4 separate regions of the Homo sapiens genome follow, and regions 2, 3 and 4 are each linked to region 1. Evidence: fine-mapped expression QTL. A gene starts in region 1. Each other region holds a variant in brackets. All regions are shown on one strand. Distances are between the middles of the regions. Region 1 holds the start of PNMA6A (PNMA family member 6A). Region 2 overlaps ATP2B3 (ATPase plasma membrane Ca2+ transporting 3). Region 3 overlaps MAGEA3-DT (MAGEA3 divergent transcript). Region 4 has its middle 25 kb from the start of PNMA6A.

Evidence for each region.
Region 2: its variant is fine-mapped to the expression of PNMA6A in atrial appendage (GTEx, PIP above 0.99).
Region 3: its variant is fine-mapped to the expression of PNMA6A in transverse colon (GTEx, PIP 0.96).
Region 4: its variant is fine-mapped to the expression of PNMA6A in whole blood (TOPMed, PIP above 0.99).

The regions. Positions count from the first base shown.
Region 1 is chrX:153,069,217-153,077,318 of GRCh38, reverse strand. It overlaps PNMA6A (PNMA family member 6A), which reads right to left and starts at 4,865. Exons shown (of 2, transcript NM_032882.6): 1 at 4,713-4,865; 2 at 2,300-4,384. The coding sequence starts at 4,256. The coding sequence ends at 3,057. It also overlaps the pseudogene PNMA6B.
Region 2 is chrX:153,537,422-153,545,523 of GRCh38, reverse strand. ATP2B3 (ATPase plasma membrane Ca2+ transporting 3) reads right to left here. Exons shown (of 22, transcript NM_001001344.3): 4 at 3,968-4,165; 5 at 3,598-3,855; 6 at 3,076-3,201; 7 at 2,356-2,481. Among named protein-coding and RNA genes, the nearest start is that of ATP2B3, 24 kb to the right of the region's middle. RefSeq lists an enhancer at 800-1,652. The variant C/T (reference allele first, on the strand shown) is at 3,948.
Region 3 is chrX:152,548,330-152,556,431 of GRCh38, reverse strand. MAGEA3-DT (MAGEA3 divergent transcript) reads left to right here. Exons shown (of 5, transcript XR_938525.3): 5 at 1,941-2,055. Among named protein-coding and RNA genes, the nearest start is that of GABRQ, 86 kb to the left of the region's middle. The variant G/C (reference allele first, on the strand shown) is at 3,654.
Region 4 is chrX:153,093,818-153,101,919 of GRCh38, reverse strand. No RefSeq gene overlaps it. Among named protein-coding and RNA genes, the nearest start is that of PNMA6A, 25 kb to the right of the region's middle. The variant C/T (reference allele first, on the strand shown) is at 4,630.

The DNA.
Region 1 (8,102 bases):
GGTCCGGGGTCCGGGGTCCGGGGTCCGGGGGCGGCGCGGGGATGAGGCCAAGACCCGCAGGGACCACCCCCCCGGGGGGGCGGGGCGGGACAGGGGCGGGGCCTGGCTGCAGAGGCGCGGCCAGGGGAGGAGGGCGGCTGGGGGTGGGAGTGGACGTGGACGTGGACGTGGGCGTGGGGAGGGGTGGGCATTAACCTCGCTCTCGCCCGCTCGCATTCACAGGCTGTGGAGACCTGGGCTCCGACCCCAGTTCATCCCCCCACACCCCCGCCGCCCCGTGCCACCCTGGTCCGCGCTGGGAACCCTATCCTGCCCCTCGTGTCAGCCCGGCACTGGCCAGAATCGCGGGCATGGCGGTGACCATGCTGCAGGACTGGTGCCGGTGGATGGGGGTCAACGCTCGCAGGGGCCTGCTCATCCTGGGCATCCCGGAGGACTGTGATGATGCCGAATTCCAAGAGTCCCTCGAGGCTGCCCTGAGGCCTATGGGACACTTTACAGTGCTAGGCAAAGCGTTTCGAGAGGAGGATAATGCCACCGCGGCCCTGGTCGAGCTCGACCGGGAAGTCAACTATGCTTTGGTCCCCAGGGAAATCCCCGGCACTGGGGGCCCGTGGAACGTGGTCTTTGTGCCCCGTTGCTCAGGCGAGGAGTTTCTCGGTCTCGGTCGCGTGTTCCACTTCCCGGAGCAAGAGGGGCAGATGGTGGAGAGCGTGGCCGGCGCCCTGGGTGTGGGGCTGCGCAGGGTGTGCTGGCTGCGATCCATCGGTCAGGCGGTCCAGCCCTGGGTGGAGGCCGTGAGGTGCCAGAGCCTGGGTGTGTTTTCCGGGAGGGACCAGCCAGCCCCAGGGGAGGAGTCCTTTGAGGTCTGGCTAGACCACACCACCGAAATGCTGCATGTGTGGCAGGGGGTCTCGGAAAGGGAGAGGAGGAGGAGGCTGCTGGAAGGCTTGCGTGGGACCGCCCTGCAGCTCGTGCACGCGCTCCTGGCGGAGAACCCCGCCAGGACGGCGCAGGACTGTCTGGCGGCCCTGGCCCAGGTGTTTGGAGACAACGAGTCCCAGGCGACCATCCGGGTGAAGTGTCTGACCGCTCAGCAGCAGTCAGGCGAGCGTCTCTCAGCTTTCGTGTTGCGGCTGGAAGTGCTGCTGCAGAAGGCCATGGAGAAGGAGGCCCTGGCCAGAGCATCCGCCGACCGCGTGCGCCTGAGGCAGATGCTCACCAGGGCCCACCTTACTGAGCCTCTGGATGAAGCACTGAGGAAGCTGAGAATGGCCGGGAGGTCTCCAAGTTTCTTGGAGATGCTGGGGCTCGTTCGGGAGTCTGAGGCATGGGAGGCCAGTCTAGCCAGGAGCGTGAGAGCCCAGACACAGGAAGGGGCCGGTGCCCGGGCTGGTGCCCAGGCTGTTGCCAGAGCCAGCACTAAAGTAGAGGCGGTCCCAGGAGGTCCTGGTCGGGAGCCAGAGGGCCTCCTCCAGGCAGGAGGCCAGGAGGCTGAGGAGCTCCTCCAGGAGGGGCTCAAGCCCGTCCTGGAGGAATGTGATAACTAGGTTGGGGCTGGGGAGGCAGCCCAGCGCGAGTCCTCCCCGGGCAAATAGGCTCCGAGGGCCCCGGGGCCTCCTCTCCTCCTCTCAGGCAGCAGGGCCCTGGAGACAGGCGGAGGCCGGGCCAGGGCCGGTCCCTCACCCCACATCGGGATCGGGGCCAGCTGTGGCCTGGGTGGGGGCACCTGAAGATGTCTGCCCCCCACTCCTTGTCCTGGGTTGGGAGAGGCAGGGGGAAAGAGGCCCTCTCAAGGGTGTCAGCTGCCTGGGTCTCCCAAGAGCGGTCCCCCACCCGCGGAGTCCTCCACATGGCTCCCGTGTGGGCCTCTGACTTCATGCCCAGGCCCTCCTGGGGCTCTTCCCTGACCTTGGCTTCCAGCCTGAGGTTACACATGTGGCCACTCTGACCCTTCTGAAAGCCCTGAGCGCCGCCCCCCCCACCCCACCCCGCAGTGCTGTCAGGGATCCTGGATACCAGGACCTAGCCTACTGTCCCTCTGCCTGTCTGCAACGTCCAAACCACCTACTCCTGGGAGGTGATCAGCGTGCCCTGGGAACCCAATCAGCCCCTGCTCAAGACTACCACGCCATCCCGTGCAGCCCAGGGGACCACACAGACCCTCAGGGACCAAGCACCCCACACACCCCGATGTTAGCCCAGCCACTGTGGCACCTCACCTCACCTTGTCCCCAGCCAACACTGCACCCCGCACCCCGCACCCCATGCAGTTTCCCACAGCAGAGGCGAGGCCGGCTGGAACACTGAATGAAATTTATTGAAGAGAGATATGTACTGAAACCGTTGAAGAGAAGGGAATCACAACACAGAAGCTGCAAATGGCCACCACAGGACACAGGTCGGGACCCCCCTCCTCCTGGGGGAACACCCACCCCAGGTCTAGGAAACTCAGTAACAAGTAACAACAGGGGTGGAACGCCAAAGCACAAAGTTCACTGGGGAAACTCAGACAGCCCCACTCCATCCCGGGTCCTGTTCTTTCTCCCACAGTCATGGTCACCATCGCTGTCACGGGATGAGTGTCCACTGTGCCCTGGTGCCTTCTTTCCGCCATCTCCCGGGACTGCGCTGGGGTCCTCTGGGGAGGAGCTGCTCAGAGAAGAACACACACGGCTCCACAAAAACAAGCAGCCCCTGGCCTAGATCTACGCAGGGAAAGCAGAGGTGGTGCTCACGATACGGGAGAGCAGTGAGCACAACCTGGGCTCCCAGGAAGCTCACAGCACGTGCCCCTGGCACTGGAGGGGCGCCTCCCCCCACCCCATTTGGTATTAAATGTGGTCATCTGGGTCACCGGGAAGGTGGTGGTGGGCAGGGCCCCTTGGGGGGAAGTGGGGGGCCCCGATCCCGATGTGGGGTGAGGGACCGGCCCTGGCCCCGCCTCCGCCTGTCTCCAGGGCCCTGCTGCCTGAGAGGAGGAGAGGAGGCCCCGGGGCCCTCGGAGCCTATTTGCCCGGGGAGGACTCGCGCTGGGCTGCCTCCCCAGCCCCAACCTAGTTATCACATTCCTCCAGGACGGGCTTGAGCCCCTCCTGGAGGAGCTCCTCAGCCTCCTGGCCTCCTGCCTGGAGGAGGCCCTCTGGCTCCCGACCAGGACCTCCTGGGACCGCCTCTACTTTAGTGCTGGCTCTGGCAACAGCCTGGGCACCAGCCCGGGCACCGGCCCCTTCCTGTGTCTGGGCTCTCACGCTCCTGGCTAGACTGGCCTCCCATGCCTCAGACTCCCGAACGAGCCCCAGCATCTCCAAGAAACTTGGAGACCTCCCGGCCATTCTCAGCTTCCTCAGTGCTTCATCCAGAGGCTCAGTAAGGTGGGCCCTGGTGAGCATCTGCCTCAGGCGCACGCGGTCGGCGGATGCTCTGGCCAGGGCCTCCTTCTCCATGGCCTTCTGCAGCAGCACTTCCAGCCGCAACACGAAAGCTGAGAGACGCTCGCCTGACTGCTGCTGAGCGGTCAGACACTTCACCCGGATGGTCGCCTGGGACTCGTTGTCTCCAAACACCTGGGCCAGGGCCGCCAGACAGTCCTGCGCCGTCCTGGCGGGGTTCTCCGCCAGGAGCGCGTGCACGAGCTGCAGGGCGGTCCCACGCAAGCCTTCCAGCAGCCTCCTCCTCCTCTCCCTTTCCGAGACCCCCTGCCACACATGCAGCATTTCGGTGGTGTGGTCTAGCCAGACCTCAAAGGACTCCTCCCCTGGGGCTGGCTGGTCCCTCCCGGAAAACACGCCCAGGCTCTGGCACCTCACGGCCTCCACCCAGGGCTGGACCGCCTGACCGATGGATCGCAGCCAGCACACCCTGCGCAGCCCCACACCCAGGGCGCCGGCCACGCTCTCCACCATCTGCCCCTCTTGCTCCGGGAAGTGGAACACGCGACCGAGACCGAGAAACTCCTCGCCTGAGCAACGGGGCACAAAGACCACGTTCCACGGGCCCCCAGTGCCGGGGATTTCCCTGGGGACCAAAGCATAGTTGACTTCCCGGTCGAGCTCGACCAGGGCCGCGGTGGCATTATCCTCCTCTCGAAACGCTTTGCCTAGCACTGTAAAGTGTCCCATAGGCCTCAGGGCAGCCTCGAGGGACTCTTGGAATTCGGCATCATCACAGTCCTCCGGGATGCCCAGGATGAGCAGGCCCCTGCGAGCGTTGACCCCCATCCACCGGCACCAGTCCTGCAGCATGGTCACCGCCATGCCCGCGATTCTGGCCAGTGCCGGGCTGACACGAGGGGCAGGATAGGGTTCCCAGCGCGGACCAGGGTGGCACGGGGCGGCGGGGGTGTGGGGGGATGAACTGGGGTCGGAGCCCAGGTCTCCACAGCCTGTGAATGCGAGCGGGCGAGAGCGAGGTTAATGCCCACCCCTCCCCACGCCCACGTCCACGTCCACGTCCACTCCCACCCCCAGCCGCCCTCCTCCCCTGGCCGCGCCTCTGCAGCCAGGCCCCGCCCCTGTCCCGCCCCGCCCCCCCGGGGGGGTGGTCCCTGCGGGTCTTGGCCTCATCCCCGCGCCGCCCCCGGACCCCGGACCCCGGACCCCGGACCCCGGACCGCTGCCCCGCAGGCTGCTTCAGTTCTGTTAGGGCGGACAGGCGAGGGGCGGCGGAGTCTCCCGGGACCCAGCGTCCCCCTCCCCGGGTGGGTCTGATACCTTTTCCCGGGGCAGGGTCCCTCCTGGTCCGGGTCCCCACAGGGCGCGTCGGGGGCTGCGCGCCGCTGCGGCGGCGGCGGGGTCGGGCGCCCCTGGCTCCCCGCGCGGGCGTTCCCTCTGACTGTGCCTCTCCCTCGCTCGCTCGGCGTTTGGGCCGGTGCGCAGGCGCCTGCTCGCAGCCGCTCTCTGCAGTGCGGTCACGCGGCCGGGGTGCGGCGGCGGTGCAGCGCGGACCCCTCCGCGTCGCCGGCCCGGGAGAGCGCAGGGCCGTTGCCGCGGGCGGGTCACGTGGCCTGGCTCTCGCCGCCTTCCCGAGCGCCCCAGGACCCCGGGTGACGTCACCTGCTCCTATCCCCTAGCCCCACCCCCACTCCCCTCGCGCCGCGGGTCCCGGGAACACAGGCGCCAGCCCACCCCCACCCCCACCGGGGTGTCCAAAGGTCTGTGGGCCGCAGGTCCCAGCGCCTTTGGCTCTCACCACAGCGGTTCCTGGTCCAGGCCTCTGCCCCTCCCGCACGTGCCCCGGAGGCAGGCGCCAGCGGGGCGACGGGTGTGCACCCCGGCGTGCCCACCAGAGGGCCAGGGAGTGGTCTGAGGTGCGTCCGGCAGCTCTGCGTTCTGGCCAGGGTCAGGGAGCCGGGTTCTGGGGCCTGTGCACCTGCTCTTGTCCTCCCCCTCCCCGTCCAGGACTGGTCCTCTGGCTGGCAAGGCCAGGCGAGGCCAGGGGCACCTGGTGCGGGTGCCATTCCGTGGAGGAGATGCCCCAGGCGCTCACGCAGCTCACGCACACCATCCTACGGAGGGTCTGCCATCTCCCCGCTGCCCATCCGGCTTCAGGGACCCGCAGCCCTCCGGCCGAAGCACTTTGCTGCCCTGGTGCCAGGAGCCAGCACCTAGGAGGGTGACCCAGCACCCAAGTATGCCCGGGCCTCGTCCGTTTTGCAGCCGCAAGTCCCGAGTCTGGGTCTCTGCCTGAGTGTGTGCCTGGAAAGGTAGTCCGCGCGGAGTGGGCTACTCAATTTGTCCCCTGCCCCCTGTGCCCTCACCAGCCTGATGGGCTCTGGGACATTGCTCTCTTGGCCCTGAGGGCAGCATGGGTGTCGTACCTCCCTGGAGACCTCCGTCTGTCAGGGCCTGAGTCAGCCTTCCATAGGTCCTTCCCCAGTCCTCTGTTGCCGGGGCTAGACACTGCGCCAGGGCAGAGCAGCCTCCGCTCAAAACAGAGATTCTGCGCCCGTGGATCTGACCACCCTGCACCTGACCCATCATGGGAGGCTGGGGCCATGTGAACAGCATCTCCACCAGGCAGGTGGCAAACAGGTTCCCACGGGGTCACACCTCTGGGTGTCGTTCCCTCATCCCCTTCTCTTTCCTTGCCTGACCTCCTGTTTGGCAACTTGCTGGCCAAGGTTTCCCCCAAGCGTCCAGCTCGCCCAAGCTCCTTGCTGAATCACAGCCCCAGAGTATTTGTCTATGACCCTGGGGATGGACATTCCGGTCCTTCCCACTGTTTGGCTGTTGCAGACACTGCTGCCAGTGGCATCCCGCATGCCTGTCTGAGCCACCACCGTCAGCCAGAAAGACTCTGGGGTGCACAGCAGGCAGTGGCTCTGCTGGGACTTGGGCTGTGCCTATCAACGCCACAACCAAGCATTGCTCATCTGTGACCTCCGGTGCGTGGCTGAACCCATGTTCCCTCGCACTGGCAGCGTGGGAGCGGTCCTGGGTTCCTACAGCCCGAGCAGCCTTTGGTCCTGTCCAGCCTCGCCTGCTTGCCCATCCCACGGGGAGAGACACCACCTCATCGCTGTGTGCCTTGCGTTTCCCCGAGCGGTGGCGAGGTCGTGCATCCTCTCACTGGCCGTTCCTGGTTCCTCTTCTGTGAATCTCCTTTGCTCCTTTCCTCCTCATCTCGCAGATGACAGGCGTCATCGGCCCGTTTCCAGGAGAAAGTTCCTAGCGTCAAGATCGAAGCCTTTCTCCTTTTGTGATATAAGCCATGGCCAGTCTATCACGTTGCCCAGAAGCAGGTCGCATTGGAGTGGGCCTCACAATTAGACTTTGGCTTGCCCGTATGGTTGTGAAAGGTTTCAGAATCAAGATGGAGTCACTTGTTGTTCAAGCAAACAAAAATCCAAAAACCTGACAAATAGAGCTGTGGAGGGCCACCTAGGCAGGGTTCCCATGCACGAATGCCTGATAACAAAAGCTATCACGGAAGACTGCAAAACCCACAAATTTGCACAAAGGCTGTTGCAACCTGACACAAATAATACTTCTGTGAGGACACCTGCCCAGCAACTTCCTGTCCAAGCCCCTGACCAATGCTACCCTTGTTATTCATCCTTGTAGCCAAAGATCATTATGTCAAAACAATTATGTAATCCTCTTCACTTGTCCTGAAAAACCTTTGTCTGCCTTCCCCTGCCTGAATATGCACATAGTTCACTAGGGCGCACGCGTCCCCACTGCAGTGCCTATTTCTGAATACCATTCTTATAGGGAGGCTCCCTCTCTGTGTGGTACTTAGGTTGGCATGGTCTTGCTCCCCAGGCTTTTCTACCTCCCAGGTAGTAAACGTGGGGTCAGCGAAGAAACGCATGTCTTCTGTCACAAAGCAGCCTCCCCGGTTGGGCTCGTGTGTCCAGTCCTCCCCGCCCCCCTGCCCCCCACCGCTTCTCCCCCTTGAGGGCCAAGACTGCTTGTTCTCATTCAGGCAAACTGCTGCTCTTTACCTCTGCTGTGAGAGTGTCTGTCTATCGAACCTTTAGTGTTAGACTTGTCACGGCTTATACCACATATTGTCCTCTCTCTTGTTTTCAGCCGTGATTTTTCTGGAGTCCTTCTTCAGAAAGGGCACCGACCCCCCCCCCCTCCCCCCCCCCGCCTCGGCCGCCCCCGCCCTGGGAACATCTGTGGGTCTGGTGTCTCCAACTGGCCCAGCCAGCCCACCGGCCGGCTCGCAACTAATTTCCTGTTTTCGGCCTTGTCTCTTCCCACTCTCCTTCCTTCTGCACCTGCTGACTCCAAGTCCAGGACGCTGCAGGACACCCATTGCCCCCCGCCAACCCCGGGCAAGGCTGGGCTGTGACACGTCAACTGTCTTTCTTTTGTCAGTCCTCTGTCCCCATTGTCTCCACCTCTCAACACAGTTGACTCTCCTTCCTTCTCAAAACCATTTCCTTTCTCAGCTTCTTCCTCTCCCCCACCCCACTTTTGGGCTGACCTCCTCCCTCTCTACCTGCCTCTCTGCCCTTGGACCTTCCTCCTCCTCCTCCTACTTTGCTGGATCTAAGCGTGGTGGGGGCGGGCTCCCAGCCTCAACCCTGGGACATACGGCACCTCCGATGAATGCTCTGTCTCTGGACGTGACCTCTCTTCCAAGCTCCG
Region 2 (8,102 bases), 470 kb before region 1:
AATTTTTGTACTTTTAATAGAGACGGGGTTTCGCCATGTTGGCCAGGCTGGTCTCCAACTCCTGACCTCAAGTGATTCACCTGCCTTGACCTCTCAAAGTGTTGGGATTACAGGCATGAGCCACTGTGCCTGGCCCCAGTGTGTGTTTTAAAGGGACAAAGGAATGAGACGCTAGGACTCTGCGGGGCGCTTTCAGGTCATTGGTCAACCCAGGGCTGCAGCACAGGAGTGCCAGCCTGAGCCCCGGCACACAGCAGCCCTGCAAGGCCAGGCTGGGCCCCAAGTGGCCCTATCCAGGGGCTCAGGTGGTGGGCACAGTCACCCCTTCTGAGAGCTGCAGTTAGAGGAGCTTCCTGGGGGCCACATCTGCACTCCCAGGCAGTTGGGGTTGGGATCCGGGGTCCCCAGGGAGCAGGGAGGGCCCCCCCCCCGACCCTACTCAGCCAGGGGTGGGGCATTGATCAGGCCCTCTCCGCCCAGGGTTCCTGTGGGCACAGAGGGCCCTTCTTGCAGGGAGGGGAGACCCCCACGGACACAAGATGGCAGTGCGATGACCGCACAGCACAGCAGGGGAGATGGCAGAGCCTTGGGGCCGTGGGGGCCCGAAGGAAGCATGGACTCTGGACCCAGCCTGCACACAGGCCCTGGGAGGCCTCTGGAGGAGGGAGGCAGGGGGAAGTCTGGGATGAGCATTGCTGGAAGAGGAGGGCTGGGCCCCGCCAGAAGAGACAGGAGTGGGGGGAAGGTGAGGAGGAGAAGCACACTTGGAGAAAGGTGCATAGGAGTCAAGGTCAAGAGACAAGAAATAGGGGGTTGGGTGCAGGTAGAAGGCAAGTATCCTAAGCGTGTACCTGGCAGGCTGCGCCAAACAATGGGGATGGGGCGGGAGAGACGGGGAGGGCGAGCAGGGAGCCCCCTGGTCTTGCTGGTACCCTCTACCCAGCTGGCCAGCTGCTGCTCTCCCTCCAGGGCCCCCTCAGGGTTCTCTTCCTCCAGGAAGCCCTCTAGCTCTGACTCCTAAGTAGGACAGCCTGAGGGTGCTGGAGAGGAGGGCCAGGTGGGGCCTGGGAGGGGCTGAATGGTCTTGTCAATTTAAAAAAGAAAGGAGAGGCCTGGAACAGTTAGGAAGGACACACTCATTTAAGGTACAGAGAAGGTGAGCAGCCTGAGAAGGGCGGCTGGAGACTCCAGAGGAGCGTGGGTTCCCGTGGACGATGGGAGAGGGCCATTGTGTGCAAGACATGAGGAGGCAGCCCAGGCAGGGGCAGCTGGGCTTCCCAGGACAGAGGCCTAGGGACTCCAGCCCAGCCCAGACGAGGCCCAGGGCTGCCCATCTGCCTGCGCACCCCCAGGGCACTCACTGGGGTGAGACACTGCACTGAGCCCTACAGGACTTGGTGCCACAAAGAAGAGCCGGTGCAGGGAGACACAGGCCCAGGCTGCCAGGAGGCAGGGCTCGTCGAAGCTTCTAGGCCACAGAGGGTCATCCAGCTACTCCTTTGCTGCCTCCAGGGAGCTTTGGGCTCAGGGCTGACCTTTTCCCCGGGCCCTGACTGCCCGCCCCACGCCCCCACGCCCCCACACCCCGCGCACTGGCCCCAGGGCCCTGGCTGGAGGTCACTGGCAGGAAGCAGAGCTTTCCCATGCGGGTGTGGCTCCCTACCATGTTTTGGCTGCAGGAGAGGCCAGAAGGCAAGTCCAGGCCAGAGCAAGGCTGCCCAGCCAGAAGGGGCTGTGGCAGCCATTCAATCTTGTCCATCAGGGCCTCCCTGAATAGTACTCAGGTTAGAAGGTCTGAGGACTCCGCCCGCTGCAGGGCCTGATGGTGGCAGCTCCAGCCACAGGACGAGGAATGGGCCCTCCTGGCTCGGGCTTGCCTAGCTTTGTAAGCCCCAGGGCAGGGCCACCACCCACAGTTGGGCTGCCCGGCCCTCACCTGTCCCAGCCTCCTCTGACCTCTGACCCCCACCTCCCTGGCTGCCTCCCACGCTGGCCTGGGATCCTCGGCACCTTACTGGGCACGGGCCCTGAGGGTAAGCATGAGGCTCCCCGTAGCTCCTGTCCCTCTAACGCCATTCCTGTCCAGGTAGGTATGGGATCCCGGAGCCTTTGGGGATGGTGGTCTCAGGGAAACTCCCCGTCCACGGCACTGGAGGGGCCCTTGGCCTGCCGGCTCTCAGGGGGGATATCCTCAGAAGAGGAGTCTCCACGGAGAATCAAAAGAGAGGGCCCGGCCTCCCACCCACTTGGGCTGGCTCTCCCTGAGCCCCCAGTGGCACCGGCCCGCAAAGAAAGAATGGGCAGCGTGGAAGGAGCCGCCACCAGCACCAGGGACTGGCGGCACTGCTGCGCTACCTTTCTTATCTTTCTTCTCTTCCTCCTCTCCGCCAGCTCCAAGCAGCGTGAAGATGATGCCTGTCTGGGAATTCACGCCAACGGCGGTCACCACCATTCTTCCAGAACCTTCCATGACATGAGTGCCTGGAACAGCAACACAGAGACTGAGACAGGAATTTGTATCACCCAGTGGGAGACACATTCAGCGCCCACAACCTGTCTCCCAGGGTCTCCCGGAAGCAGGGACGCGGTGTCCACCTTAAAACTAGGCTGAAGCCTCCTCCCTGGCTTGGAGGAGACCCCGAGGCCCACAGGGCCCACCTAGGGCCTCCAGCCTTCCTGTCCCGTTTCACACTACGTTTCCAACTGGGATAAACACCGGACTATGCTGAAACCTTCTGGAAAGGGAACACTACCCCCACTGGATATTGTCGAGGGTCTGGATTGAGAGAAGCACAGCGCTGTGCTGGCCCCTGCAAGCCTCTCCGCTTGGGGCTTCCCATTCAGGACACAAAGCACTCTCCCGGGCCTGGAGGGCCAGCTTCCTCGCCCTGTGGCTGGAGCTGCCACCATCAGGCCTCAAGACGGGCGGAGTCTTCAGATTCCCAACCTGAAGGTTATGCTGGAAGGCCCTGGTGGAGGTGGAGGCTGAGCCCAGCAGGCAGCCTGGACAGGATGCTGGGCCACACGGCTGCTGACGCCCCTTGGTGCCAGGCTGGCCCGGAGGGTGGCCCTCACCTGAGAGCAGCATGGGATCTTTGTCAGCTGACTTGCGCACGTGGTCAGACTCGCCCGTCAGGGAGCTCTCGTCGATCTTGAGGTCATTGGCCTGGATGAGCACGCCGTCGGCTGGCAGCAGGTCGCCTAGAGCACCGGGAAGCAGAGGCCTTTCTCCCCACCGCCTCCTCCCGGCTGCCCCAGGGGAGGTCCCGTCAGGTGCCATGGGCCGCCTGGGAAAGGGACTCAGGAGCCCTCCTCCTTCTGGGGAACGAGGACATTTGCATCCTTTGTAGGGGGGAAAGCCCGCCGTGGAGGCTGTGGGGACAGTTGATTCTTCGGGGGCCTGCTGTGTCTGAAACCACTCTGCCCTGCCCCGTGTTCCCCCACCTCCCCCACCCCCGCCACCTCCCGCCTCCTAAGGCAGGTGACGACACGCAGGCCACCGGGGAGAACCTGTGCTGGGGGTCTCCTCTGGCTCACCCTCCCCAGAAGCAGGAGCCGAGCTTCCTTGACAGGGTGGGTGAAGACCAGGGCACTCACCGTACTTGACCTGGGCAATGTCCCCCACCACCAGCGCAGCCACGGGGACCTGGAGGAGCTGCCCGTTCCGGATGACCGTGAACTTCTGCTCCTGCTCAATTCGGCTCTGCAGGCCTCGGAACTGCTTCTCCTTGCTCCAGTCATTGAAGGCCGTGACCAGCACCACACAGATGACGGACAGCAGGATGGCAGCCCCCTCGATCCAGCCAGCTTCGGCCTCGCCCTCATCTTCTGCGCCTCCCGACACATTCCCACAGGCTGTGCGGAGGACAGAAGGGAAGCAGTGGAGGAGACATCACCATCCTGTGACCGTCCCTCATCTCAAGCCCCATTCCTCTTCCTCCTTCCAG[C/T]CCAGGCCCCCGGGCCTTACCTTCACTCTCCTCTCCTGGCGGCGCATAGAACGAGAGGCCCAGAGAGACGATGGCAGCCACCTCCAGGATGATGAGGGTCACGTCCTGCAGGGCCTCCCACACCAGCTGCAGGAAGGTCTTGGGTTGCTTTGGGGGGATGAAGTTCTGCCCGTAGATCTGCCTGCGCTTCTCCAGGTCATTGGTGTTGTCCGCCAGGCCTGCATGGTGCCCCGGAAGCACAGAAGGGGAGGATGGGATGGGACGGGTCGGCCTTGTGTGTCCCAGGCCTCCTATGTGGCCCTGACTGACTGCTCCTGGGGTGGCAGCAGCCCTCTGGGGCCGTCTGGCCAGCGCCTGGCTCTCCCTCTAGACAGGAGCCTTTCTGCAGACTGCTGGGGGTGTGCACGTGGGAGTGAGCATGCGGCTCTCTGGCTGCTGTCATGGGGAGTCCCTAGCCATCCTCCTCCTGACACACAGATGACAAAACAGGCCAGGAGGCTCCTGGACTCCAGCGGGTCCCAGGTCCCTGTGCTTTCCTGGCCACCTCCACACTACCGCTGAGGGGGCACTGGAAGGCAGGGGACAGGACCCAACAAGGGGGCACAGAGGGGACCCAGCAGGGTATGTCCAGGTCAACAAGGGTTGCTAGGAGACAGGACAGAAGAGTATAGCCAATGGTCCCCTGGGGAGGAGAGCGAGTGTCCAGGGGACTTTAGTGGAGACATGGGGAGGGCCACCAATCAGGGGAGGCTGGGATGGCACCAGATGCCAAAGACTAGGCCAGGGCTCTGTGCCTGTCAGGAAACACCTCTCTAGCTCCCAGCCTATGAATTCCCTGAGCAGGCTTGTCACCAACACCCCCCTCCCCAGCTCTGTAAGATGGGGCCAGCCGGTCCCAAAGACTGGCAGTGTCACACAGCCCAACCTGTGGGGGCAGGGACAGCCTGCAAAGAGGGTGGGCAGGGCCCGAGGGATTGGGGCATGAGCACGGCCAGTGCCGAGGAATCAGCAGTCTCCAGGGTGCCTGTGGCTGCTGGCAACAGGGAGCGGAGGCTTACTTTCCAGAAGTTTCTCGGGGAAGAAGCAGTGGGGAGGGAGCATGAGAGCTAATGGGAGATGCAAGTTCTTGGGTCCAGAGACCCAAAGAAGAAGAACGGTGTCACGCGAGGAGAGAGAGAGGCACGGGAATGGGAGTGGGTTCCTGGTGGGGAACAGGCGGGGAGAAGCCAAACCGGAGTCACGGTGCTGAGGGAGGGGACTGGGAAGTCTTCAAGCCTTTTCTGGGCTGCATGGCCTCGCAGGGGTCGGGGAGACACTGCCCACCCTGGGCTGCTCATCAGCTGCTCTCTGCAGGGTGCAGACAAGGCCACTGAGGCCGGAGGTGGAGAGGGCCCTGTAACCATGAGTCAGAGCTCTGGCCTGTGGCCCAGGTCAGGACAGAACCTACGCTGCCCGACAGGACCCGGTGAGCACAGGGCCCTCAGGACCCAGCAGCCTTGGTTCTAATGCAACTCCAGCACCAACTTTGATCCCTCAGCCAGGGCTCACAGCTTGTCTACATGGCGACTTGAATGACACCCAAAGCCACTCAGAAGCCCCCAAATTGGCTTTGCCTTCACAATCAGAGCCACCTGTCCCTATCCAATTCTGTCACTTGTCATCCTTGAGGACGCTTACTTCTCAGTCTTCCTTGGCCTGAAGGTACTGGAAGCTTACGTGCGTGACTGGCATCCGGGCCTGGACACCCACTCAGCCACCTTCTACCGGGGCAGGCATGTGGGATGACACCCTCCTCTGGCCCCACCCTTGGCCCCAGGATTCTCAGCCCCGGCTGATCCCGAGGAGCCCTCCCGGGCGCTCACCCGGCGCCCAGTGCTGTCGCGGCCGTGACCAGACCCACACTGACACCTGGTGGACAGACAGCAGCTTGCAGCTCCCAGCCCTGGGCAGCTGGGCTCACGCCTGCCATCTGCTGCAGGGACGGGATGACCAGAGAGCCCAGCCCCAGCCCATGGGGCACTCACAGTGGGTCTGGGAAGGCACACAAGACCCTCCAGATGACTGGAGAACAGGCGCATGCTAACCTTGGGGCTTCTGAGGAGGGGCAGGGGTAGCCCTGGCCGCAGTGGAACAGAAGCTGCCGCCCGCACAACCGTGGCTCATTCACCCCAGCTAGGCGACGGCCACATGGCGTCCTCCCCACCCAGAAGAGCCGCAGCTGTCCGTGCCTCTCTGCCCCTGGCTCAGGTTTCTTCAGGAGCCAAAGGCCTCTTGCTGAGGCCCGAGCCTGCCCCAATCGGGAGCCTGGGGTTAACGCACGACCTCAGCTCCTGGGTGGTGGGGAGGGGGCTGGGGACCAGGGACCCAACTGAGGGGTGTGCACCTCGCTCTGGACTGGGACTGTCTCCTGGAATTACAGGAGCTAAGCCAGGTGGGGACAGTACTAGGGAGTACAAGACCCCCCAAGTGACTTAAGAAGAAGCACGTGCTAACCGTGGGGCTTCTGCGGAGGGAGAGGAGCAGGGGAGGGCTCCCCAGACACCTGGGGTCTCCACTGCCCTTAGCCTGGAGCCTCCATGCGAGTCTCTCTCCTGCCTGCCCCTCCTCACATGCCCAGTTTGTCCCTGAGAGCAGCCGGGACCCCTGGCCCATTCCCCAGGAGCTCCCTCGCCCTCGCCAGCCTCTCCCTTGGCCTTGACCTGCCCTTGCAGCTGTAGCCTTGCTCGTTTCTCCTTAGCCTTCCTGTGGGCTCGGGGTCCCGACGGCTGCCCCACTGCAGCACCCATTGACGGGGAGGAGGAACACAGCTGCGGCCCCTCTGGCTCTGAGCACATGCTTCCCCAGCAGGCCCGAGGGCAGTCCAGGTCCAGGGCATGGGGGCAGGGGCTGGCCGGTTGGCATGGACACAGATGGGCGGCCTGCCCGGAGCAGAGGCCAGATGCCATCAGAATTGGATTAGGAGCATCTCGTGTCGGCTCCCAGCGAATCCGCCCCCTCCTTTCCAGAACTGCCTGTGGAGCCCAGAGGGGCACTGGGCGGGGCCAGGTTCCCGGGCGAACCCACCTCTGAGTTCAGCCTGAGACCCAGGTTTCCTGACAACAGCAGCGCGGTTTCCAGGATGGGTTCTGGAATCCTCTTGGAGTGCTCCCAAGACAGGGAGGGCAGTGGATTGATGAGTGTACCGCCAGAAGATAAAGTCCCCTTCCCGCAATGCACTATGCGCCATAAAGCACCTGCCCCACGGGGGAGTGCCTGCCTCCTGGGCAGCCCCACGTCTGCCCACCTTGTCAGGGGATTGGCATGGGGCTTGGGGCACAACAAAGCCAGCTGCCCCCGTGGCTCAGGCCCTTGTGTCTGAGGAGGACTGAGGGGCAGGCAGGTCTGAGCACCAGGGTCCGGGTGCACGGCCGGGCTAGGGGATGCGGGGAGCGAGTCACCCGCTCCTGGCACCCAGACAGCTCAAGCCCGACAGCTCCAGCCCGAGGACCTTGAGGGTTGAAGAGGGGAGGGGCCGGTCCTCTGCTGCTCATTCTGTGGGCAGCAGATCCAGGCCTGGCCGGCTCCCTGCACTGTGGCCTTGGGGACCCAGGTGCTTGGAAGCCCGTCAGAGGCCAAGCCACCCACCTGTGCACCTGCCCTTCTCCGTGCCCCTGCCTCCACAGGCACGCAAGAGCTCCTGAGCTCCATGGCAGAATCGGGCAGGTTCCCAGGGGCCTTGACATTTTAAATATTTAACAAGGCCTGGCAGACAGGGGAAGAGCAGACAGCTGAGGCCCATCTGCTTCCTTTGATCTGGGAGAGGCCAGAGCTCTTGTGGATAAATGGCCCTCCACAGCCTCCTCGGGGGCTGGGCAAGGAGGAGGGAAGGCAAGAGATGCTCGGGAGCAGAGCCAAGGCATCAGCCCCAGCAGCAGCTGCACCGTGAGGGCGTGTGCGGCGGCGAGGCCGGGTGTCACGGGCGCATCAGCTCCAGGGCACAAAGCTAGGGAGACCCAGGCAGACCCTGGAGTTCCTGACCTGGCCCGCAGCCCCCCTCCTCCATCTTCACTCCTCCCTGCAGCCTGAGTGCCACCTGCAGACAGACGGGGCCGAGGCCGGAGCCACAAGAGAACAGTCTCTGGGTTGAGGGTGAGGGCAGAGCGGGAGGCTGGAGGT
Region 3 (8,102 bases), 520 kb after region 1:
GAATCACAGTGAAAATTTGAAAATACTTAGAACTGCAGGAGCAAAAATGAAATATAAAAACATAATGGAAAGGAAGAGGCAAACTGTTATTTTATGTGTTTCTAATTATAAAATCCAAGAAAACCAACCGGAAGACTACTGGAACTTATAAGCACTCAGAGATAGCTGATTACCACATAAAAATCAATAGCTTTTCCATACAGTAGCAAAAGCTGATTAGAAAATGTCATGGTGAAAATATTTCACATTGCAATGGCAAGAAATAGTATAAATACATAAAAATAAACTGAACAAGAAATGTGCCATACTAAATGAAAAATGTTATATTTTGCTGATGGATATAAAGATGGATGGAAATTGAGAAACATACCTGGAACCTGGATGGCATGCAGTGTAGGGTTAGGAATATTGACTCTGGCTCCAGGAATCTGGAGCCCAGCCTGCTCAACTTCAAATCCTGGCTCTGTCACTTCCTAGCAGTGTGACTTTGGCCTATTACTTAAACCTCTTTGTGCCTCAATTTTATTTCCCTGTAAAGTGTCAGTAGCCATAGAGTTAAGGTTCACTGAGGAATCAATGAGTTATTCTACCATGATTAACCTATATAAGGCTGTGTGACCTGCACCCTGCTCTCCTGATTCCCTGTATCCTACTTTCCCTCCTCATTTTATTTTCTATAGCACTAACTACCCTCTAGCATATGATATCATTTACTTATTTTTGTTTGTTTGTTTTGAGGCAGGGTCTTGCTATTACCCAGGCTGGAGTGCAGTGGTGTGATCATCACTCATTGCAACCTTGATCTCCTGGGCTCAAGCGATCTTCCCACCTCAGCCTCCCAAGTAGCTGGGACCACAGGCATATGCCACCACGTCCAGCTAATTTTTAAACTTTTTGTAGAGATGGGATCTCCCTATGTTGCCCAGGCTGGCCTCAAACTCCTGGACTCAAGTGATCCTCCCGCTTTGGCCTCCCAAAGTGCTGGGATTACAGACGTGAGCCACCGCACCAGGCCGTATTTCTTATTTATTGACTGACTACCTCTGCCAAAATATAAGCTTCTTGAGGGCAAGAATCTCTGTTTTAATTTTTTGACATAAGAAATAAAATAAAATATAAATACATGTCTATATTTTTGAAAATATACCCCAAATGCTTAGATAATTTACTTGGCACCTGGCAGGGAAAATAGAATCATACCTGGTACACAATAAGCACTATTATTATAGTAAAGATGTCAGTTCTCCAGAAATTATAAATGTAATGCAACCCAATTAATATCACAGTGAGATGTTTTATAGAATTTGAGAAGCTGATTCTAGAATTCATTAGAAAGAGAAAGCAACAAAAGCGAATAAAACTTTTTAAAGGAACATGGTAGGAGGGGCTCGTCTTGCCATTAATCAGCACAATGACTTATTGGCACAGGAATAGACAAATAGATCCGTGAGATTGTGTGTGTGTGTGTGTGTGGGTGGGTGTTTGTAAAGATAGCATTTCACATGAGTGGAGAATAAACTATTCCATACCTAGTGTGGGCATAATTGACTGTTGGTTATCTTTCTATAAGATCTTTCCCACACCCTCCCAGCTTAAAAGCAATTCCTAATGGACTAAATAGCTTCTGTTTTTGATCATCTACTAACATGATTTTTAAATCAATATTTTCTCATTACTGCTTGCAATGATTTTCAAGTAGTTAAGCCTGAGTTCTGTTGATTTAAGTTGAGTTCCAAATCAAAGGGGCTCTGGTTTTAATTCCTGCACCTGCTACTAATTTTCTTTGTGTCCTTGAGCAAAGCACTTCCCCTTTAAGTGCTCAGTTCCATTGTCTACGAAGTGAGAAGTTTTTATTCAATTAATTAAGATACAGACAAGTTCAACTAACTGTTAGGTGATTTTAAATAATCCTCACAGCTCATTTTCTTCCTATTTTATAGTTGAAGAAACTAAGGTTCAGAAGAACAATGGCCTGTCCAGGATCTCACAACCAGCATCTACTTGTTCCAGTTCAAGTTAGGTTTGGCTGTTAATAACATCACCTGGTGGATCAAGGTAGAGGTTTGGGTTTTTTCCCAGTAAAATCAGCACAGTGTTAGGCAGTCCAAGGATAGTTTTAAGGAAGAAGGGGAAAATAAAATTGACTCAACAACTAGCATTTCGGTTACAGTGGTGAAATCTCACATCCAGGTCTACTGATCTATGTGTGATGCTCTTTTCATTAAATCTATAGACCTGACCCTCAGATTTGTAGAGACAACTTGGAGAGAAGATCAACATAGATTTCATGGAGGGAATGGCACTCGGGTTGTGCCTGCATTGATGGCTAGGAGGTGGACAGTTGGAGCCGGGATTCAGGGAATGCTTTGTTGTGGTGGGAACAGGATGGTCATGGACTGCAAGGGGAGGGGAAAGATGAGGGACAGGGTGTGGCTAAGATTGATTGGGTCCAGCATGGGTAATGGGAGGCTGGCAGTGACCCAGGCTGCTAGTAGTATGGCTTGTAGAGCATAGTTTCTTAAAGACATTAAGACATTATTCATGAAAGACATTATATGCCTGGGGGACCTTGGCATCCCCTGCCCTCAAAAAATTAAAAGAAAACAAACACGGTACCAGCAGGGATGGAACAGGCTAGAGGCTAGGGGATGGCACTTTATGTGGAGAGTTGGCTCAACTCAAAAAATTAGCTCCTGCTTGCCTGTCCAGGGTTGCTGATGTCTCTCCTTTGGGTTCAGGTAGCAGTTCCTAAACTTTGCTGTACATTGGAATCACCTGGAATCATCTTTAACAAACACTGCCCACTGGCTCCTGCCTTTAGAGATCCGATTTGAGTAGTATGGAGTGTAACCTGGGCTTCAAGAGTTGGAAACGCTCTGTAGGTGATTGGAATTCTTGGTCAGATTCGAAATCCACCAGGTGAAGGCATTGAATGCGAAATGTTAACCGTGAATTATATTTGGTGCCATTATGATTACATATAACATTGTATATAATGTTACCTATTATTATTGATACAGTTTTCCATTATATAGGCAGGCTGGGAGACAGTCCCAGCCCAGCCCTGGGCGCTTGCTGCCGCCTTGCCTGCAGAGCCACTAACCCAGAGGGCTTCACACAGTGAGGAGGGTGCCTTATTTGGCAGTATCTAACTCTGAGGCGCTGCATCCCCCGTTAGCACTTTCACAAGATGCTTTAGCACGCATTTGAGGCCTTCCGGGTTGAAAAACCAACAAAAGCAATTGAAAAGATGAATTTCCTGGGATTTAAAAGGTACTTATAATCACATCTCTCTTGCCACCCCCTGCCCTCCCAACTAGTGGGTTGGTTGGTCTCGTTTCAGTTGTGTAAGAGCTCTTTTAGCAGGGAACTAAAAGTCCTGGGCTAGAGTTGGCAGGGTCGGTGGGTAAGGCTTGGCTTGCTCTGGGGGCCAGGGCAGAGCTCTGGAGCCAGGGCGTGTCCATTTGGTCAGGGACCACTCCCCATCCCCGACTTTTCTGGGCTCCACGGGCTCTGCACAGTCAAGCTGTTTCCTGCCTTATCAGCAAAGGAGCTGGAGAAATGGAGAAGTGACAGCCATCTGTGTAAATTAACTCATTACCAGTAAAAAATTTGCAACACCTGGTATAAATTTCGCTGAGTTCAAAGTTGTA[G/C]CAGATAAAGGTACAATTAGGCTGAGAAGCTGCCTATTGGTGGCCGGGTAGGTGAGAGTGTGGGCGAAGGGCTTGCAGAGCCACAGTGGGGCTCTGTTTGCAAGTGGGAGCGGAGGCTGGGAGTTAGTGGCCTGCTGGCCTCCTCAGTGTTTAGCTGAAATTGCTGCTATTGTCAATAGAGATTGACAATTTAAAGAGCTACAAGAGCCTTGTCTGCTGATTGAATTTATTTATCAGCCGCATATTTTTGATCATGAGTAGAGGTGGCTTATCAAAAAGACGCGACGTGATGATGCATAAACCATTTTGTTTTGTTTAGCGAAAGTTGAAGTAAATTACATTTGTTATTTCAGTATTGCCTCGTCAAATTCTCAGGAGAACAATAATTCTAGAGCTCACTCAGAGTAGAGCAGACCAGCTCAATTATTAAAGTATTGAAAGGGAAGGCTGAGCAAGAAAGATTTGCTGTTGTAGCAGTTCCCTTTTCCTGAAGCATTTCCCCTTCAACTGATGGGAAAAAGAGTGAAGGAGAAGGTGCAGGAAAGGAGAAAGGGCAGTTGTTGTTTTGTAGCTGGAGGCTTTTATTTCCCCAGTGAGGGCCAGGTTTGCTGAAGAAAGAGGTCTATCTATGAAGGTTTTGGTCTAAAGGTTAATAGGATGTCAGAGAAAGTGAGAAAAAGGGAAGGCACTTGGAAAAGGATATGAATGACTTTCAAAGAGAGATTCTATTTGATTGTAAAAAAACAGATTACAGGTCAAATAAGTACACAGTAAAGTAATAATGGTTAAAATATACCTAGTTCTAAATATGTGCTGGCAGCTTTCTAAATATTTTACATATATTAACTAATTTAGTCTCAGAATAAGCTCATGAGGTAGAAACTAGTATTACCATCCCCTTAATGGTTGAAAAAACTAGGGCAAAGATAATTTGCTTAAGGTCAAAAGTGAGTATGCAGTGGAACCAAAATTTGGTTCCAGTAGGTATGGTTCTAGACCCTATTCTCTTGATCAACAGTACTCAAACTGTAGTCCTGGACCAGCAGCACCTCCATCCCCTAGGAACTTGTTAGAAACGCAAACTCTGAAGCCCCACCCCAGACCTGCTGAATCAGAGACTCTGGGGTTTGGGCCAGGAATAAGATCTAACCAATCTAATTTCTCTAATTTTTTCTTGGGATCCTCTTTTGCTGTGAGATCCTGCTGGCTGAGGTTACGTATTATTGGTTTTCTATTGCTGCTTTAACAAATCACCACAAACTTAGTGGCTTAAAACAATACAGATTGCAGTTCTAGAGATCATAAGTCAGCTATGGGTCTTACAGGGCTAAAGTCAAATTATGGGCAGGGCTGTGTTCTTTTCTGGAGGATTTAGGGAAGAATTGGATTCCAAGCTCATTCAGATGTTGGCAGAACTTAGTGCCTTGCTGTTGCAGAACTGAGGTCCCCCTTTCATTGCTGGCTGTCTTGCAGGGGCTGCCCTTAATTATTGAAGGCCTCCCTGTGGTTCTTTCACACAGCCTCCTACATCTCAGAACAAGGAACAATGCATCAAATCTTTCTGATGCTGCCATCTTTCTGATTCAGCGAGGGAAGTTTATCTCTCTTAAGGACTCATGTGCTTTGATTGGATCCACCTAAGTGAACCAGCATGCTCTCCCTATCATAAGGTTCACACCCTTAATCATATCTGCAAAGTCCTTTTTACTTTGAATAAGGTCACATATTTACGGTGAATAAGGTCACGTATTCACAGTTTCTGGGATTAGGGTGTGAATATATTTGGGGGTTCCATTATTCTGTCTACCATAAATTACTCGCTTAATATTTTCTATGCTTCCACAAAAAAGGGTGTGTGTGTGTGGTGCTCTACATGTTTTCTTCTTTTTAGTAAAAGAGGGATCTTACCATTTTGTTTTACAACTGGCTTTTTGTTCACTTAACAGCATGTAATAGGCATCTTTCCAAATATTACACATAGTTCTGCCTCATTCCTTTGAAGGGCTGCCCAGTGGTCCAGGAGATGGTTGCATGTTACATCATTTCTTTAACCTACTCTCATTGGTGGATATTTCAGCTGTTTTTATTTTTCATCTCTTTAAATACAGAGACAGTGACCATCATTGTACCTATGTCTGTGCATTTCTATACCTTTGTCTTCCTATCGTCTGTTTTCCAAACAGCAGCCAGTGCATGATCATTTTAAAGCATAAGCCTACTTGGTACCTTTCTTTTTTTTTTATTATACTTTAAGTTTTAGGGTACATGTGCACATTGTGCAGGTTAGTTACATATGTATACATGTGCCATGCTGGTGCGCTGCACCCACTAACTCGTCATCTAGCATTAGGTATATCTCCCGATGCTATCCCTCCCCCCTCCCCCCACCCCACAACAGTACCCAGAGTGTGATATTCCCCTTCCTGTGTCCATGTGATCTCATTGTTCAATTCCCACCTATGAGTGAGAATATGTGGTGTTTGGTTTTTTGTTCTTGCGATAGTTTACTGAGAATGATGATTTCCAATTTCATCCATGTCCCTACAAAGGACATGAACTCATCATTTTTTATGGCTGCATAGTATTCCATGGTGTATATGTGCCACATTTTCTTCATCCAGTCTATCATTGTTGGACATTTGGGTTGGTTCCAAGTCTTTGCTATTGTGAATAATGCCGCAATAAACATACGTGTGCATGTGTCTTTATAGCAGCATGATTTATAGTCCTTTGGGTATATACCCAGTAATGGGATGGCTGGGTCAAATGGTATTTCCAGTTCTAGATCCCGGAGGAATCGCCACACTGCCTTCCACAATGGTTGAACTAGTTTACAGTCCCACCAACAGTGTAAAAGTGTTCCTATTTCTCCACAGCCTCTCCAGCACCGGTTGTTTCCTGACTTTTTAATGATTGCCATTCTAACTGGTGTGAGATGGTATCTCATTGTGGTTTTGATTTGCATTTCTCTGATGGCCAGTGATGGTGAGCATTTTTTCATGTGTTTTTTGGCTGCATAAATGTCTTCTTTTGAGAAGTGTCTGTTCATGTCCTTCGCCCACTTTTTGATGGGGTTGTTTGTTTTTTTCTTGTAAATTTGTTTGAGTTCATTGTAGATTCTGGATATTAGCCCTTTGTCAGATGAGTAGGTTGCGAAAATTTTCTCCCATTTTGTAGGTTGCCTGTTCACTCTGATGGTAGTTTCTTTTGCTGTGCAGAAGCTCTTTAGTTTAATTAGATCCCATTTGTCAATTTTGGCTTTTGTTGCCATTGCTTTTGGTGTTTTAGATATGAAGTCCTTGCCCATGCCTATGTCCTGAATGGTAAAGCCTAGGTTTTCTTCTAGGGTTTTTATGGTTTTAGGTCTAACGTTTAAGTCTTTAATCCATCTTGAATTGATTTTTGTATAAGGTGTAAGGAAGGGATCCAGTTTCAGCTTTCTACATATGGCTAGCCAGTTTTCCCAGCACCATTTATTAAACAGGGAATCCTTTCCCCATTGCTTGTTTTTCTCACGTTTGTCAAAGATCAGATAGTTGTAGATATGCGGCGTTCTTTCTGAGGGCTCTGTTCTGTTCCATTGATCTATATCTCTGTTTTGGTACCAGTACCATGCTGTTTTGGTTACTGTAGCCTTGTAGTATAGTTTGAAGTCAGGTAGTGTGATGCCTCCAGCTTTGTTCTTTTGGCTTAGGATTGACTTGGCGATGCGGGCTCTTTTTTGGTTCCATATGAACTTTAAAGTAGTTTTTTCCAATTCTGTGAAGAAAGTCATTGGTAGCTTGATGGGGATGGCATTGATCTGTAAATTACCTTGGGCAGTATGGCCATTTTCACGATATTGATTCTTCCTACCCATGAGCATGGAATGTTCTTCCATTTGTTTGTATCCTCTTTTATTTCGTTGAGCAGTGGTTTGTGGTTCTCCTTGAAGAGGTCCTTCACATCCCTTGTAAGTTGGATTCCTAGGTATTTTATTCTCTTTGAAGCAATTGTGAATGGGAGTTCACTCATGATTTGGCTCTCTGTTTGTCTGTTGTTGGTGTATAAGAATGCTTGTGATTTTTGTATATTGATTTTGTATCCTGAGACTTTGCTGAAGTTGCTTATCAGCTTAAGGAGATTTTGGGCTGAGACGATGGGGTTTTCTAGATATACAATCATGTCGTCTGCAAACAGGGACAATTTGACTTCCTATTTTCCTAATTGAATACCCTTTATTTCCTTCTCCTGCCTGATTGCCCTGGCCAGAACTTCCAACACTATGTTGAATAGGAGTGGTGAAAGAGGGCATCTCTGTCTTGTGCCAGTGTTCAAAGGGAATGCTTCCAGTTTTTGCCCATTCAGTATGATATTGGCTGTGGGTTTGTCATGGATAGCTCTTATTATTTTGAAATACGTCCCATCAATACCTAATTTATTGAGAGTTTTTAGCATGAAGGGCTGTTG
Region 4 (8,102 bases), 25 kb before region 1:
TGTGGAAGTGGGGTCACCCCTGAGATCTCAGAACTGTAGAGCCACCAGAGTGCAACTCCGGCTTAGGAAAACCACAGGCATGCAACTTCAATACATGAGAGCTGAAACATGCTCTGTTCCCAGCAAAGTCATGGGAACAGGGCTGCTCAGAACCTTGGAGACTGCACCCCCACATCAGTGTGTCCGGAAAGTGGGACATGGAGTCAAAGAATATTATTTTCAAGCCTTAAGATTTATGGTTGTTTTCCCTGTTGGGTTTTGGACTTGCTTGTGGCCTATTACTCCTTTCTTCGCTCCTATTTCTCCCTTTTGGGATGGGAATGTTTATCCTATGCCAGTCCTACCATTGTATATTGGAAGTACATAATTTGCTTGATTTCACAGGCTCATACCTGGAGAGAAATTTACCTAAGGATGAAGCATACCTTAAGTCTCATCTATATTGTCAGGCCTCTGAGCCCAAGCTAAGCCATCATAACCCCTGTGACCTGCACATATACATCCAGATGGCCTGGAGCAACTGAAGAACCACAAAACAAGTGAAACAGTCAGTTCCTGCCTTAACTGATGACATTCCACCATTGTGATTTGTTCCTGCCCCACCTTAACTAATCAATTGACCTTGTGACATTCCTCCCCTGGACAATGAGTCTCAGGAGCTCCCCACTGAGCACCTTGTGACCCCCTCCCCTGCTAACAATAGATAAACACCTTTAACTGTAATTTTCCACTGCCTACCCAAGTCCTTTAAGACTGCCCCTCTCCTATCTTCCTTTGCTGACTCCTTTCTCGGACTCAGCCCACTTGCACCAAAGTGAATAAACAGCCTCACTGCTCACACAAAGCCTGTTTGGTGGTCTGTTCACATGGACGTGTGTAACATTTGGTGCCGAAAAACCCGGAACAGGGGGATTCCTTTGGGAGACCAGTCCCCTGTCCTTGCCCTCACTCCATGAGGAGATCCACCTATGACCTCCAGTCCTCAGACAAGCCCCAGGAACATCTCACCAATTTCAAATTGGGTAAGTGGTCTCTTCACTCTCTTCTCCAGCCTCTCTTGCTACCCTTCAATCTCCTTGTCCTTCCAATTCCAGTTCTTTTTCCTCTCTAGTAGAGACAAAGGAGACACATTTTATCTGTGAATTCAGAAACCCCGACGTCGGTCACAGATTTGGGAAGACAGTCGTCCCTTGGTGTCTGATCTTCACAGGGACACCTGCCTTGATCATTCACCCACACTCCCCTCGTGGCAAGCCAATTATGGGGATGCCTGCTTTGGCTGATCACCCACATTACAGCCCAGGACTCAGCCAGGGACACCTAATGAAAGCCTGGTAGCTGCTCACTTCCCCTTCTCTACATCTCTACCTTTCTCTTCAATTTCACCTCCTTCACTATGGGCAACTTTACACCCTCCATTCCTCCCTCTTCCCCCTTAGCCTGTGTACTTAAAAACTTAAAACCTCTTAAACTAACACCTGATCTAAAACCCAAAAGTCTTATTTTCTTCTGCAATGCCGCTTGGCCCCAATATAAACTTGACAATGGTTCCAAATGGCCAGAAAATGTAACTTTCGATTTCTCCATCCTACAAAACCTAGATAATTTTTGTGAAAAATTGGGCAAATTGTCTGAGGTGCCTTACGTCCAAACATTTTTTACACTTCGCTCCCTCCCTAGTCTCTGCTCCCAGTGCGACTTGTCTCAGATTTTCCTTCTTTCTCTCCCGTCTGCTCCTTCAGTCTCCACCCCAAGCTCAGAGTCCTCTGAATCCTCCTTTTCCACTGACCCTTCTGACCTCTCTCCTCCTCCCCCGGCCGCTCCTCGCCAGGCTGAATCGGGTCCCAATTCTTCCGCAGCCTCTGCTCCCCCACCCTATAACCCTGCTATTACCCCCCCTCCTCACACTCAGTCTTGCTTACAGTTTCATTCCCCGACTAGCTCTCCCCCACCTGCCCAACAATTTCCTCCTAGAGAGGTGGCTGGAGCTAAAGGCATAGTCAGGGTACATGTGACTTTTTCTTTATCTGACCTCTCCCAAATAAGTTAGCGTTTAGGATCTTTTTCATCAAATATAAAAACCCAGCCCAGTTCATGGCCCGTTTGGCAACAACCCTTAGATTCTTTACCACCCTAGACCCAGAGGGACCAGAAGGCCGCCTTATCCTTAATATGCATTTTATCACCCAATCCACTCCTGACATTAAAAAAAAAAAAAACCCAAAAGTTTGATTCTGGCCCTCAAACCCCACAACAGGATTTAATCAACCTTGCCTTCAAGGTGTTCAATAACAGAGAAGAAGCTGCCAAGCAGCAACTTATCTCTGAGTTACAACTACTTGCCTCCGCTGTAAGACAACCCACAACCACGTCTCCAGCATACAAAACCTTCAGAACATCCAAGCCACGGCTCCCAGGGGCTCCTTCAAAACCTCCTCGTGGACCTTGCTTCAAATGCCAAAAGCCTGGCCACTGGGCCTCGGAATGCCCACAGCCCAAGATTCCTCCTAAGACATGCCCTGTCTGTGTGGGCCCCCACTGGAAATCAGACTGTCCAACTCACATCGCCGCCACTCCTAAAGCTCCTGGAGCTCAAACCCAATATTCCTTGGCTGACTCTTTCCCAGATCTCCTCAGCTTAGTGGCTGAATACTGATGCTGCCCCATCATCTCAGAAGCCCCCTGGACCATCACAGACGCCAAGCTTCAGGTAACTCTTACAGTGGAGGGTAAGTCCGTCCCCTGTTTAATTGATACAGGGGCTACTCACTCCACATTACCTTCTTTTCAAGGGCCTGTTTCCCTTGCCCCCCATAACTGTTGTGGGTATTGACAGCCAAGATTCAAAACCCCTTAAAACTCCCCCACTCTGGTGCCAACTTGGACAACATTATTTTATGCACTCTTTTTTTAGTTACGCCCACCTGCCAGTTTCCTTATTAGGCTGAGATATTTTAACCAAATTATCTGCTTCCCTGACTATTCCTGGGCTACAGCCACACCTCATTGCTGCACTTTTACCCAATTCAAGGCCTCTTTCACATCCTCCTCTTGTATCTTCCCACCTTAATCCACAAATATGGGATACCTCTACTCCTACCTTGGCAACCAATCATGCACCCCTCATCATCCCACTAAAACCTAACCACCCTTACCCTGCTCAGTGCCAATATCCCATCCCACAGCAGGCTTTAAAAGGGTTAAAGCCTGTTATCACCCACCTGTTACAACATGGCCTCTTAAAGCCTACAAATTCTCCTTACAACTCCCCTATCCTACCCGTCCAGAAACCGGACAAGTCTTACATGTTGGTTTAGGATCTTCGCCTTATTAATCAAATCGTCCTTCCCATCCATCCTATAGTGCCAAACCCGCACACCCTCCTATCTTCAATACCCCCTTCCACAACTCACTATTCTATTATCGACCTCAAAGGTGCCTTCTTTACTATCCCCTTGCATCCCTCCTCCCAGCCTCTTTTCGCCTTTACTTGGACTGACCCTGACACCCACCAATCCCAACAACTCACCTGGATTGTTCTGCCCCAGGGCTTCAGGGACAGCCCACACTACTTTGGTCAGGCCCTTTCTCATGATCTGCTTTCTTTTTGCCCATCTGCCTCCCACCTTATTCAATATATTGCTGATCTTCTTCTTTGCAGCCCCTCTTACCAATCTTCCCAGCAGGACACTATTCTGCTTCTTCAACATCTCTACTCAAAGGGGTACCGAGTATCCCCCTCCAAGGCACAAATTTCTTCCCCTAGCATTACCTATATCAGTATAATCCTCCATCAACATACACACACCCTTCCTGAAGACATTGTTCAGTTCATCTCCCAGACCCCAATCCCCACCATCAAACAACAACTCCTTTCCTTCTTAGGCATTGTTGAATATTTCCAACTCTGGATACCAGGCTTTGCTATCTTAACCAAACCACTTTACAAGCTCACAAAGGGTAATTTAACTGATCCCATAGACCCTAAGTCTTTACCCCATTATTCCTTTCACTCTCTCAGAAAGGCCCTGGAGACAGCTCCCACACTAGCACTCCCCAACTCATCCCATCCTTTTTCCTTACACACAGCTGAAATACAAGGCTGTGCTGCTGGAGTCCTCACACAGGAGCCAGGCCCACGACCTGTTGTCTTTCTATCAAAACAACTTGACCTCACAGTTCTGGGCTGGCCCTCATGTCTGCGTGTGGTGACAGCTGCCACTTTAATACTTCTAGAGGCCTTCAAAATCACAGGCTATGCTCCACTTACCCTTTACAGTTCTCACAACCTTCAAGCATTAATATCCTCCTCACACCTTTTACATTTATTGTCTGCCCCTCAACTCCTCCAGCTATATTCACTCTTTGTTGAAACTCCAACAGTAACTATTACACATGGGCCTGATTTCAACCCAGCTTCTCACTTAGCACCCAAAACAAGTCCTGAACCACATGACTGTATTTCCCTAATACACTTAGCATCTTCCCCTTTTCCTCATATTTCTATTCTTCCAATTCCAAACCCAGACCATACTTGGTTTATCGATGGCAGTTCTTCTAAACTCAATCAATTTTCACCAGCTAAAGCGAGATATGCTGTCATGTCCCACACCTCTATTATCGAAGCTG[C/T]TGCACTTCCTCCCTCCACCACTTCCCAACAAGCTGAACTGATTGCTTTAACTTGTGTGCTCTCTCTCACTAAAGGAATGCACATTAACATTTATGCTGACTCCAAATATGCTTTCCACATCCTCCATAACCATGCTGCCATCTGGGCCAAAAAAGGCTTCCTTGCCACATAAGGCTCTTCCATTATCAATGCCTCCCTCATAAAGGCCCTCCTTAAGGCTGCTCTCCTGCCAGCCAAGGCTAGAGTCATTCATTTTAAAGGACACCAGAAACCTACTGATCTTATTGCAAAAGGAAATGCTTATGCCAACAGGACAGCAAAAGAAACAGCCAATGTTTCCACACCTGCTAATATTCCAGCCCCCACTCCAGAGGACCAGTATTTTTCTTTCTCCTCTATCACTCCCACCTACTCTGGTTCTGAAAACCTCCTCTACCAGTCTTTTCCAACTCAGGGCAAGTGGTCCTTCGAGCATGGAAAATTCATTCTTCCTGCCTCACAAGCTCAGTCCATTCTTTCTTCCCTTCATGACCACTTCCATGTGGGATACAAGCCTGGCTATCCTCCTGCAGCCCCTCATCTCCTTCCCTTCATGGAAATCCATCCTTAAGACCATCACCTCTCAATGCTCTGTCTGCCATACCACCAGCCTCCAAGGCTTTCTCAGGCCTCCTCCTTTTCCTATGCATCAGGCTCATGGATTTACTCTGACACAAGATTGGCAGATTGAGTTTACTCATATGCCCTGTGTCCGTAAATTTAAGTATCTCCTGGTTTGGGTCAACACCTTCACCGGGTAGGTCGAGGCCTTTCCCAGTAGCTCAGAAAAGGCTACTGCAGTCTTCTCTTCCCTTCTAATAGATATAATTCCCCGATTTTGCCTCCCTACTTCTGTGCAATCTGACAATGGTCTGGCTTTTATTAGTCAAATCACCCAAGCAATTTCTCAGGCTCTTGGTATTCAGTGGAATCTTCATACCCCTTACCATCTTCAATCTTCAGGAAAGGTAGAATGGACTAATGGCCTTTTAAAAACACACCTCACCAAGCTCAGCCTCCAACTTAAAAAGGACTGGACAGTACTTCTACCACTTGCCCTTCTCAGAATTAGAGCCTGCCCTTAAGATGCTACAGGGTACAGTCCATTTAAACTTTTATGTGGACGTACTTTCTTGCTCAGCCCCAAACTTTTCCAGACACCAGCCCTCTAGGTGACTATCTTCCAGTCCTTCAGCAGGCTAGACAGGAAATTCGCCAGACTGCTAATCTTCTCTTGCCTACTCCACATTCCCAGCCATATGAAGACATCTCTTTTAGTACACCCTCTCACCTCTTCACTTTGCACTTCCAGTTTTGCCTTACACAAGGTCTCTTTTTCCTCTGTGGCTCATCCACCTACATGTGTTTTCCTGTTAATTGGACAGGCGCATGCACACCAGTTTTCCTTACTCCCAAAATTCAATTTGCAAATGGGACCGAACAGCTTCCTGTTCCCTTCATGACACTGACACAACAAAAAAGGGTTATTCCACTAATTCCCTTGCTTGTCGGTTTAGGACTTTCTGCCTCCACTATTGCTCTTGGAACTGGAGTAGCAGGCATTTCAACCTCTGTCACAACCTTCCATAGCCTCTCTAATGACTTCTCTGCTAGCATCACAGACATATCACAAACTTTATCAGTCCTTCAGGCCCAGGTTGACTCTTTAGCTGTGGTTGTCCTCCAAAACAGCTGAGACCTCGACTTACTGCTAAAAAAGGAGGACTCTGTATATTTTTAAATGAAGCGTTTTTTTGTTTTGTTTTGTTTTGTTTTGTTTTACCTAAATCAAACTGGCCTGGTATATGACAACATAGAAAAACTCAAGGATAGAGCCCAAGAACTCACCAACCAAGCAAATAATTACACTGAACCCCCTTGGGCACTCTCTAATTGGATGTCCTTGGTCCTCCCAATTCTTCGTCCTCTAATACCTGTTTTTCTCCTTCTCTTATTCAGACCTTGTGTCTTCCGTTTAGTTTCTCAGTTCATACAAAACAGCATCCAGGCCATCACCAATCATTCTATATGACAAATGCTCCTTCTAACAACCCCACAATATCACCCCTTACCCCAAAATCTTTCTTCAGTTTAATCTCTCCCACTTTAGGTTCCCGCGCCACCCCTAATCCCACTCGAAGCAGCCCTGAGAAACATTGCCCATTATCTCTCCATACCACCCCCAAAAGTTTTCACAGCCCCAACACTTCACCACTATTTTGTTTTGTTTTTCTTATTAATATAAGAAGACAGGAATGTCAGGCCTCTGAGCCCAAGCTAAGCCATCATAACGCCTGTGACCTGCACATATACATCCAGATGGCCTGGAGCAACTGAAGAACCACAAAACAAGTGAAACAGCCAGTTCCTGCCTTAACTGATGACATTCCACCATAGTGATTTGTTCCTGCTCCAACCTAATTAATCAATCGACCTTGTGACATTCCTCCCCTAGACAATGAGTTTCAGGAGCTCCCCACCGAGCACCTTGTGACCCCCTCCCCTGCTAACAATAGATAACCACCTTTAACTGTAATTTTCCACTGCCTACCCAAGTCCTATAAGACTGCCCCTCTCCCATCTACCTTCACTGACTCCTTTCTCGGACTCAGCCCACTTGCACCCAAGTGAATAAACAGCCTCATTGTTCACACAAAGACTGTTTGATGGTCTCTTCACACAGATGTGTGTAACATAAATCTGATTTGGATGAGATTCTGAATTTTAGACTTTTGAGTTGATGTTAGCATAAGTTAAATCTTTGGGGAATATTGGGATGAAATGAATGTATTCTGTATGTGAGAAGGACATTAATTTTGTGGGCCAGAGGGGCAATGCTATGGACTGAATGTGTTCCCCAAAGCTCATGTGTTGCATATAATCCCCACTGCAACAGCGTTGGGAGATAGGAACTTTTGGACAATATTTAAGTCATGAGAGCCTAATGGATTAATGCCATTAAATAAAAAGGGTTTGTTAGAGTGGGTTTGTGCTGTTCTGTTCTTCTGACATGTGAGGACACAGCATTTGTCCCCTTTTGCCCTCATGCCTTCCACTATATGCTGATGCAGCAAGAAGGCCCTCACAAGATGCTGGTGCCTTGAGCTTGGACTTCCTAGCCTCCAGAACTGTGAGAAATAAATTTCTGTTCTTTGCAAATTACCTAGCCTTAGGCATTTTGTTATAGCAGCACAAAACAGACTATGACAATAACTTATAGTTTGCATCGTGTTACTAACTTCAAGATTGTTTTATTATAATTCAGTTTTGCACCACATTTTGGCAAGAAAATTTAACTTTGGCAAGGAGATAGGAAATCCCTCTCCACTTCTCCTCAGGCTAGGAAATGTCCCACACATAGTTCTAAAGCCCACAGCTCCCAGTATTTACTGTCTAAGCTGCCTCACTGGTGACAACATTCAATTATTACAAG